Linked DNA regions of Homo sapiens: region 1 is reported to be linked to region 2. Evidence: microRNA targets listed by miRTarBase, many of them from high-throughput screens and not tested one by one. Region 2 holds a microRNA gene; the other region holds the end of a gene's coding sequence.
What was found. Region 2 holds the annotated microRNA hsa-miR-6753-3p (UGGUCUGUCUCUGCCCUGGCAC, at 3,505-3,526, opposite strand). A microRNA usually pairs through its seed, bases 2 to 8, with sites in the 3' UTR of a target mRNA and lowers its output. Matches are read on the target gene's strand: a 7mer-m8 pairs with bases 2 to 8, a 7mer-A1 pairs with bases 2 to 7 and ends in A, and an 8mer does both.

Region 1: miRTarBase lists ATG9A as a target of hsa-miR-6753-3p. Seed matches in the 3' UTR shown: 7mer-m8 at 4,286-4,292.

The regions. Positions count from the first base shown.
Region 1 is chr2:219,215,370-219,220,817 of GRCh38, forward strand. ATG9A (autophagy related 9A) reads right to left here. Exons shown (of 16, transcript NM_001077198.3): 15 at 5,378-5,448; 16 at 4,011-5,083. The coding sequence ends at 5,078. It overlaps ABCB6 (ATP binding cassette subfamily B member 6 (LAN blood group)), which reads right to left and starts at 3,589. Exons shown (of 19, transcript NM_005689.4): 1 at 2,756-3,589; 2 at 2,301-2,438; 3 at 1,283-1,463; 4 at 995-1,096; 5 at 628-811. The coding sequence starts at 3,304. RefSeq lists an enhancer at 2,806-3,673 and a silencer at 2,919-3,028.
Region 2 is chr11:68,043,458-68,048,457 of GRCh38, reverse strand. It overlaps MIR6753 (microRNA 6753), which reads right to left and starts at 3,664; the gene lies at 3,501-3,664. TCIRG1 (T cell immune regulator 1, ATPase H+ transporting V0 subunit a3) reads right to left here. Exons shown (of 20, transcript NM_006019.4): 6 at 4,961-5,000; 7 at 4,805-4,887; 8 at 4,551-4,644; 9 at 4,114-4,326; 10 at 3,356-3,500; 11 at 886-1,025; 12 at 654-811; 13 at 486-576.

The DNA of each region.
Region 1 (5,448 bases), not on the chromosome of region 2:
TTTGTTTTAGGAAAAACCTCCACAATGCCATATTAGTTCTGTGAGTCTGCATATATAATATGTATGTAAAAATGCAAAAAAGCAGAACCCAGCTGGGCACAATGGCTCACAACTGTAATCCCAGCACTTTGGAATGCTAGGTGGGCAGATCACATGATGCTAGGAGTTCCAGGCCAGCCTGGCCAACATGGTGAAACCCTGTTTCTACAAAAAATCTAATAATTAGCCAGGCATGCTGGTGCACATCTGTAATCCCAGCTACTCAGGAGGCTGAGGCAGGAGAATTGCTTGAACCCGGGAGGCAGAGGTTGCAGTGAGCAGAGATTATGCCACTGTACTCCAGCCTGGGTGACAGAGCGTGACCCTGTCTCAAAAAAAGAGCAGAACCCAACATACTAAACAGAGTGGGAAGCTCTGAAAAAGTAAGTGCAGCTCGAAAGAGATTTGCCCTCTGCCCGCATTACCTAAGTTATTAGGAGAGCATGTATACAATAATCCTATACTTTAAAAAACACCAAGGTGGGAGCGGCAGCTTCTCAGGCGGGGTCTGTTCTCTTCCTCCCACGGGCCCCTATCCCTGCTTCTCCGGCTCCACCCTCCCACATGCCCTTTCCACTGGGGCGGCACCTGAGCAGCCCTGTGACACTGGATGTGCCCCGATCCGCGATCCGCAGCACCTCCCCTGTGCGGCGCCCCAGGTGCCAGCGCAGTGAGAGCTCGTGCAGGTGGGAGAAGATGAGCAGCTCCACCCGCCGAGACGTGAACTGCTGCACCCGGATCCACAGGAAGGTGCGCAGGTTGCTCACGAAGCCTGCAGGGAGCCGGGGGACGCCTCAGTAGGGCCTGGGAGCTGAGGGACGTCAGCCCAGCACCAGGATGTGAAAGGTCTGAGAGTACATGGGGGCTGGGGAGGAATGCTGGGAGAGGCGGATGCTGAGGGAATGCCTGTGGGAGGGACCTATACCTAGCAGGGTGAGGGCGGAGTCTCTCATACCTGTACTGCCAGTGCCACCCCCCTGGAGGAACTTGAGGAAGACGTAACTGGTAACAGTCCAGGCCAGAGAGTTCCAAGGTGCCTTCTCAGTCAGCAAGTTCACTGTGGAGGAAACGAGTCAGAACCCACTTATGGCGCCCAGGACTCTCTTCAGGCAAAATGGCCCCAGGTACCAGCCACAGTCTCTTTCTGACCACCCAGCTCTGTCCCACCTCCCTAGGTAAGGACCATCCCAGCCACCAGGCTGATGAAGGACCAGCACACTGAGCTGGTGCTCCTCCTGCTCACCAATGTTCCTATAGAATATAGGCACCAACACATTGAGTGCCCGTTCCAAACCCATGAGCCCCAGGCAGATGAGCACCACCAGCTGCAGAGCTGGACTCCCTCGAGGCCACAGGTAGCCACTCAGGAGGCGGAGCTTCCTGCCAAAATCTCGCCAGGTAGACTGTTGGGCTGCTGACCGAACCTAGGATGGTGAAACACGTAGGAAGGGAGCTCAGAAATCAAGTAAGTGCACTAGCCAGAAACCCTTCAGGGAAAAACCTATGGGGTTACAGCTCCCAGGTATCTCAGACCCACAAGTGATCCTTGATGGGGTCAGAAAAACTAAGTTGCAAACTGAGATTTGGAAAAGAAGCATTTCATTTTGGGGGAAGGAATGATGACAGGGAATGAAATGAAGAGACTCCAGGATTCAGAAACTGAGGTGGGGTCTGGTGCAGTGGCTCATGCCTGTAATCCCAGCACTTTGGGAGTCCGAGGCAGGTGGGTCACCTGAGGTCAGGAGTTCAAGACTAGCCTGGCCAACATGGTGAAACCCCATCTCCACTAAAAATACAAAAATTAGCCGGGTACACACCTGTAATCCCAGCTACTTGGGAGGCTGAGGCACGAGAATTGTTTGAACCCAGGAGGCAGAGGGTGCAGTGAGCTGAGATCGCGCCACTACACTCCAGCCTGGGTGACGGAGCAAGATTCCGTCTTAAAAACAAAAAGAGGCCAGGCGCAGTGGCTCACGCCTGTAATCCTAGCACTTTGGGAGGCTGAGGCAGGCGGATCACGAGGTCAAGAGATCGAGACCATCCTGGCCAATGCTGTGAAACCCTGTCTCTACTAAAAATACAAAACTTAGCTGGGTGTGGTGTCATGCACCTGTAGTCCCAGCTACTCAGGAGGCTGAGGCAGGAGAATCGCTTGAACCCGGGAGGTGGAGGTTGCAGTGAGCTGAGATCACGCCACTGCACTCCAGCCTGGTGACAGAGCAAGACTCCGTCTCCAAAAAAAAAAAGAAACTGAGGTGTACCTGGCTCCTTTCCACATCTTGGTCCTCTTCATGAACCTGCAATGTATAGGACTGGGGACGAAGTCCAGGGGCCCAGAGACCCAGGACAAACAGCCCTCCAGAGACCACATACCGCAGCACCCACAGGCTAAACTGAACCTAGAATGAAATATAAGTGGAGAGAGTATCATTGAGGATAAAATTTCATTGTATTACTACTTATAATAGGGCCGGGGACTGGTGTCATGAACACATTCAGCACTTACAGGCTTAAAAAAAAAAAAAAAAGCAAAACCACAGTGACTCAGCAAAGACACACCCCACCAGCTGGCTATCAGCTCCCGGCAGGACTCAGCCCCTCCCTTCTCCCTTTGCTTAGAGGCATCCTAAAGCCTGGAAGCAGTGTGACTGGACATGCAGTGCTTTCTCCCAAGCCCGGCCAGCAGAGGCTTCCCCCTTCCCACAGAGTCCCTCACCTGCTGGCCCAAGTCTGCCCTTGCCCACCACCACTGTGGGCTGTTCCAAGACACCAGGGCCAAGTTCTCAGCTGCAAACGCCACAGTCCAGAGGAGCAGGAGACCAGGGCTGTGCCTGAACTTGATCCAGATGCCCATTGCCAGACGCTGCCGTGCCTGGCTCCGCTCCACGACAAGCAGCCACAGGCCACAGGCGCCGGCCAGACTCTCCAGCACGGAGGCCAGAAGTAGATAGCTTGGCAGTGGGGCCCCCCGGGCAGTGCCCACCCGGCCAGCCAGGCCGGCCAGGGGCAGCGCCGCCTGAAGTGTGGCCAGAAGCAGCTGCAGCACGTAGGGAGAGATGCGAGGGCCGGCCCCCCAAGACAGCGAATCAGCACCAGCGGGCCGCTCCCGGCGTCTGCAGGGAAGAGCCAGCACCAAGGCCAGAGTCCCCAGAGCCATCCGCGTCGAGGGCACGAGCGTGAAGAAGAAGCAGGGACTCAGGCCATCCTGCATCCAGGCCGGACCCACGGGCCCTTCGGCCTCGCAGTAGTTGCCCACAGTCACCATGGCAATGCGTGGACGCCGGCCGAGGCTGCGGGCACTGCGGGACCGGAGGCCGGGACTGGTCACTCGGAGAGGGGCGCGGACATCCGGGTGCCTTGGCTCACGTAGCCGCTGGGCGCCAAGCTGCGGGGGTCCCGGGAAGGGACGCACGTGGACCAGGCCTCACCGCCCACTCCCCTAGCGCACGCGCCGCCGCCACGCACTCACGCAGGGCACGTACGCCGTCTCAGCACGGCCCCGCTGGCTCTGGGCCCGGGACCCTCCTGCCAACTGCAGGCCCACGGGAATGCTCGGTGTTGGACTCGCACCGCGCTCCACGGCTGTAGCCCCGCCCACAGCCCCTACCCACGGCTCCCATTGGCCAAATGTCTCCGAGGGGGGAGCGGGGGGAATGGTGCAGGCAACGAATGCAAATTAGAGAAGCAGAGCCGGCTTGGTCACGTGCCCAGGGCGGGAAATCTGACGACCAGGCCGAGCTGGAAACCTCCACGGAATCGTGGCTCGGGGCTGGAAACAGACCTCACGGAATCCTGGCTCGGGGCAGGACACAGACCTCCACGGAACTGTGGGTCGGAAGCTGCCCTTCCGCCAGCCGCCTTGCTCAGCGTATCTGAGCGACGGCCTAAACATACTTTCTTCTAGACCCCGGCAGAGTCCCCATCCCATTTCTCTTGTTCCCAGGATTCTAGCCGCGCGAGACAACAAGAAGTCTGGTCAAACTCCCTTTTTATTAAGGGTTATCAAGCTGTACACGGTCCCTACCCTGCTCCGCTCCGAGTTCGGGCAGCGCAATTCACCACTCTCCCAAAGCCGGACCACAGCTGGGTGAGGGGTGGGACAGAGAGTAGGAGCAGTCCCAGCATGCAGTGCAGCAGCCCAAAGCCTCGGGCGAGGCATCGCCCTTCATCCCCCTTCAGGGCACAGCGAGATGCGGGCCAGAGCTCTTTTGCTGGGACGCACACAGCCAAGGTCACCCTCCAGCCCGGTCTGTCCCATGTGCAGGTGATGGGGGGTACGATAAGCAGCAATGAGGGCCCAGGAAGACCTCAGTCTCCTGGGGGCCCATCCTAAAAGATGGCAAGGGCAGCAAAGTATTTCCATCCTGCTCCTACAATTTAGAAACCTTCTTTTTTAGTGTCAAAATATAGCGTTGAGGGGAGCTGGACGCTAGGGTCTTCACCCTAACGCAAAGCAAAAGCCGAACGGAACGGGAGCAAGCGAACAGAACAGGAGCAAGCAGCACACACAGGCCAGTGATGTGCAAGAAGCGGAGAGAGGTGAGCCGGCTGCAGCACTGGGCGAGAACTGCGGGTGAGGTAAGGGCCACAGCCTGACCTGCTCATCTATTGAGGGGGCTAGGGAAGGTTGCAGGGGTTGAGGGTCCAGGCCCAACCTCCCCACTCCACAGTTGGCACAGGTTCTCCCTGCTTGGCAGCTTCTATCGTGGGCAGCCCTCTGGGGACTTGCAGGGGTAGGTGTAAAGGTGGCAGTACTGGGGCTGGGCTGGGGGCCAGTTTCTAGCACCACACTCTGAGCCAAGGGGGTCCTGGGGATGAGGCTAGAGTCCCGTGTGCCCTCGGTTCCTAGGCCCCAAATTCCTCTCCTGGGGCTGTGGCAAGCCCAGTGTTGGCACCTCCCTTGGCCAGGCACAGACACACAAACACCACACACGTGGGGCCAGGGAACACTCAGAGGAGCCGTCCCATGGCAGGCAGACGGGATGGCAGGGCAGCGGTGGCCTCCATCCTGGGCCACAGGAACCCTGCTCAGCCTTGTCTATACCTGTGGGGAGAAAGGGTTGGTAATGGAGATAGTCTTCAGCTTCTGGTTGATACCTGCTAGCCCCATAGAAACCTAGAGGTAAAGGGACAGGAAAGGTTGATTCCTGGGGAGGTAAGGTAAGGAAAAACCAAGCCCTGCAGAGCAGTTGAGAAAAGAAGGGGTAGTGTGTTTTGGAAGGGAGGGTACAGTATCTCTGTGTGGGGGTGGGGCATATCTTCCTTCCCCTGAAAAGCTGTTACCTCACCCTGGAAGTTACTATTTCTGGCAGTTTTTCCTAGGCCCCGGGGCCCTTACCTTGTGCACCTGAGGGGGTAGCTCATCCTCCGAGCCCTCTTCGGGCACGGGCTCAGGGTGCCTTGATGCCG
Region 2 (5,000 bases):
GCCAGGCATGGTGGCGGGCGCCTGTAATCCCAGCTACTCAGGAGGCTGAAGCAGGGGAATCGCTTGAACCCGGGAGATGGAGGTTGCAGTGAGCCAAGATCACACCACTGCACTCCAGCCTGGGCAACAGAATGAGACTCTATATCCAAAAATAAAAAAAAGAAAAAAGAAAATCACTTCCACAGAGGGTTGGGAACAGTGCTTGGCACAGTGCAAGCTGCAGGCTGGTTCCTGTCCAGTCTCGCTTTGCCTCTGCACACTCAGGAGACTGGTTCCTGGCTGGTCTCGCTTTGCCTCCGCACACTCAGGGGACTGTGATGCAGGCTCCGCAGGGCAGGAGGCTTGTCTGCCTCTTGTGCTGAGGAAAGGGCCTGGCACACAGGAGTGCTCAGCGACAGCGCTGCAGGACGGCTGAACCGAGGGGAGCCCCAGCCCCCACTCCCAGCTGCCTTCACCACCCACGGACACTCCATCCCAGGACTCACAGGATCGATGCCAAAGGGGTAGGGTCCCAGGAAGACACCGGTGACGTTGGGATCCAGGGTAAGCATCGTGTGCTGGGCCAGGAATGCATCACTGCGGCAACGCAGGGGAGGGCGGTCAGGGCTGCGGGTGCTGCGGGGCCCCCAGCCGGGCTGGGGCCCGGGCCTCACCTCCAGCCAGACTGGTTGGCCATGGCGGCCACACTCCAGCCCGAGGGGAAGATGCTGGTGGCGCGACTGAAGCACTCGTTGTAGATGAAGCCGGTGTAGATGGAGAACAGGCCCATAAGCAGGAGCAGGTAGCGGCCCCTGAAGAAAGTCTGCCAGATCTGGGGGGGCAGTGGTGTGGTGAGGGGCTGCCTGGCCCTGCTACCCTCATCAGGACCCCAGCCCCGCCCCTCACCTCGTTCTGCGCGGCCTTCACAGCCGGTCGGTTCTCCGCAAGGACCATGGCCAGGGCGAACAGGAACATGAGCAGCCCGTGGCCCACATCCCCGAACATCACAGCAAACAGGAAGGGGAAGGTGATGATGGTGTAGGGAGCTGTGGGCAGAGGTGGGTGAGCTGGGAACCCCCGAACACACCAGCATCTGCCTCCCGGCCCAAGACGCCACGGAGGCCCTGCTGGCCTGCAGTCAAGAACCCATCACTTAGCAGCCAGGCACAGTGGCTCATGCCTGTAATCCCAGCACTCTGGGAGGCCGAGACGGGGGGGGGGGGGGGCATCACCCGAGGTCAGGAGTTCGAGACCAGCCTGGCCCACACGGTGAAACCCTGCCTGTACTAAAAACAGAAAAATTAGCTGGGCATGGTGGCAGGTGCCTGTAATCCCAGCTACTCAGGAGGCTGAGGCAGGAGAATCATTTGAACCCGGGAGGCGGAGGTTGCAGTGAGCCGAGCTCGCGCCACTGCACTCCAGCCTGCGCGACAGAGCGAAGATTCTGTCTCCGAAAAAAAAAAAAAAAAAAAGAACCCACCACTTAGGAGCTGTGTGACCTTGGCCCAGCCACTTCACCTCTCTGAGCCTCCATTTCCCCATCTGTAAAATGCAGGTAACACCAGACCACTTCATAAGTTCTCCACGGGCAGCACGGGCCAGCTGCTGGAGCCACAGGAAGTTAGCAGCTTCAGCTGTTGCTGTTCCCAGAGCTCCACACAGAAGCCAGAGAGGACAGGGAGCCACAGGCAGCCCCAGCTGGCACATGGCAAGTTCCGGGAGGCCGAGCTGGTCACTTCAGCTCTGAAGTCTCGACTTCCCATCAGTAAAATGGGAACAAGTCCTCATGGGAGGCAGGAGGACCCCAACATACACACTGTCAGGGGCTGTGTTGTGACCCCAAAAAAGATACACTGGAGTCGCAACCCCCAGGAACTCCAGATGTGACCTTCTTTGGAGACAGGGTCCTTACAGAGGTCACTGGGTTAAGATAAGGCCATTACAGTGGGCCCCAATCCAGTGTGCCCGATGTCCTTATGAAAAGGAACATTTGGACCCACATAGAAGGAGAACAGTGTGTGAAGATGAGGACGGCCGCTCCAAGCCCAGGAGAGAGGCCGGGAACAGATCTTCCTGGACAGCCTCAGAAGGAGCCACTCCTGCTGACAACACCTCATCATCTTTTATTTTTTTAAGATACAAGGGCTTGCTATGTTGCCCAGGCTGGTCTCGAACTCCTGGACTCCAGAGATCCTCCTCCCACCACAGCCTCCCAAAGTGCTGAGATCACAGGCATCAGCCAGTGCCCCCGGCCCCTGCTGACACCTTGGTCTTGGACTTCCAGCCTCCAGGACTGTGGGACCGTGTCTGCCCCTTAAGCCAGTAGCCGGTGGCACTTTGTTACAGCTTCCCTGGCAAACACGCTGCCCCGACGGCTGGTGCTTTGAGCTGGCAGCATTCTATCTGCCACGGGCCTCCAGGTGATGCTCTAGCTGCACCAGCCTCTGCCCACGTGCAGGGGAATCCTGTTGGGGCCCAGATCCAGCCCCAGGACACTGGCCCTGCAGAAGCAGCAAACCCCCCAGTGCCCCCAGTGACACTGAGTGGGGGCCCGGCCCATAGCATGGGTGTGATGTGGTGGAGCCCATGTCGGGAGGGGACTTGGTCACAGGACAGGGAGGGGCCCTGCCTCATCCAGTGGGCAAGAGTCAGGGTGCTTGGGCCCCCAACGGCCTGTGTGGGTGGATCACGTGAGGTCGGGGGTTCAAGACCAGCCTGACCAACATGGTGAAACCCCATCTCTACTAAAAATATGAAATTAGCCAGGCGTGGTGGTGCGTGCCTGTAATCCCAGCTACTTGGGAGGCTGAGGCAGGAGAATCGCTTGAACCTGGGAGGCGGAGGTTTCAGTGAGCCGAGATCATGCCATTGCACTCCAGCCTGGGCAACTGAGCAAGACTCTATCTCAAAAAAAAAAAAAAAGCTGTGCAACCAAAGCAACCACACCAAAGGCTGCCCCTGGCTCCAGCTTGCAGTCTCCAACAGTCACTAAGCTTCCCAACATTCCTCTGAGGTTTGCGCTATTATTTCCATTTTGCAGGTGAGGCAGCTGAGGCTCAGAGAAGCTAAGAAATGTCTCAAAGTAGGCGAGATGGGCTTCCAACCTGGGCCATGCCCACCGCACAGCCTCTGTTCTTTGCACAAGCCCGTGCCGGCTCCCTTGTAAACTCAACAAGGGGGAGTTGGCTGGGGGCCGACATAAAGCCTCACACTGGCTGCAGAGCCCAACAGCCCCTTGAGAGTGATGGGATGTGTGCCCCTCATCCCAGGAGGGCAGGCCAGGCCCAGGATGGAGATACCTCCCCCTCAGGCTCACACCCACCCAGTGGGGCAGCTGAGCCTCCCAGGACACGGGTAAGGATGCCGTGGCTCTCACCGGGGTTGACCTCCTGGTAGCGGCCCACGCCGTAGGCATCCACGATGCCCTGGAAGCTGGCCGTGAAGCGGTTGGTGCGGATGAGTGTGGGGGGCATGTCCCGGCAGGGGATGCGGTGAGCCACGGCACTCACTCCCTCCTCCATCTGGGTGCCAGGGCAGAGACAGACCAGAACGGTGGCGGGGGCCTTCAGGGACCCTGGGATCTCCAGCCAGGCCCAGCTGGAGATGTAGAGCCCTGTGGGGGCTCACTGGGCAGCCCCTTCCCCTCTCTCTGACGTGAGATGATCAGCCCTGCTCTGCCCTGGTGGGGGCCCAAAGACACCACATGGATTGGCAATTGCTTGGGAAAGGCAAGCATGCTGCCTCCTAGGGACGGCCCAGGAGAAGGAGCCCAGCCTCACCCGCAAGCACCTGCTGTGCGCGGCGGGTGACCCCCGGAGGCAGGGGCATCACACCGGTTCCACAGACCATGAGCAGGCCTAAGGTCACAGGGGGGCCTGGATTGGAATGAGGCTTCTGACTTTAAAACTATCCTGTGCAGCCTCCAGGGACTTAGGAAAGTCAGGGTAGGGCTTGCTGGGCCAGGGCCATCAGGGCAGACTCCCTGGAAGCGGTGGGCCATGGAGGAGGCTGGGAGGAGAAGGAGCCCCTAGGCAAAGCCCAGGTGCAGGGAGCCAGAGGCTGGAAGTGAGGCAGAAACGCCCCGGCCTGGTAGGAGGGGCGGGCGGAGAGGGGGCGAGGCCTCAGGCTGCTCACCGAGCTGTCCCGCAGGGCCTCCTGCAGGGCGGGCAGGTCTCGCACAGAGCACCAGGCCTCGGCAATGAGGCACTTGTGCGTGGTGCTCACGCTGCACTGGTTCAGGGCCAGGTACACGGCCTTCATCTTGTGGACCTGCACCTGCCCTGGCGGCAGCAGCTGCAGCACCCGGCCTAGCACCTGGCTCAGGAACCGCTCTGTCTCCCCGAGGACCTGCGCCAGAGTGGGCAGTCAGCGGGGGCTGGGCAGGCAGGTGGGGTGGCTGGGCCGGGGGCACCCACCTCCTGCACCCACCTCCTGGAGGCCAGGCCAGGGCACCCACCTCCTGCACCCACCTCCTGGAGGCCAGGCCAGGGCACCCACCTCCTGCACCCACCTCCGGGAGGCCGGGGGCACCCACCTCCTACACCCGCCTCCGGAAGGCCGGGGGCACCCACCTCCTGCAGCTCCTGGCTCTGCTGTTGCAGCTGCTGCAGGGCCCCGAGGCGGGCCTCCTCCTGCTGCAGAAACGGGAAGACGTGGCAGTGGAAGCTGGAGGGAGGATGCGCTGCGTGAGGGGCCAGAAGGACACAGCTACGAGACTCTGAGTCTGAAGGGAGCTCATGGGGAGGAGTCACGATAGGGCGGGCTGGGAGGTGACAGCAGGGGCCTGGGGAGCAGGGCGGTGGGGCGGGTGTTCCCAGTGACTCACCAGTCCGTGATCTTGCGGATCTTCTGTCCGATCTGCTCACCCCAGTAGGAGATGAGGAAGGTCATCCACGTGGCTGGCTCGCCCTGCAGAGCAGGCTCAGCTGACTCTGGGGTCCCGCTCTGCCCAGGACCCCCCAGCCCAGCGCCAGCTGCTCACCGTCACGGGGTGCTCCAGCGGCTGCTCCAGCTCCCTGAAG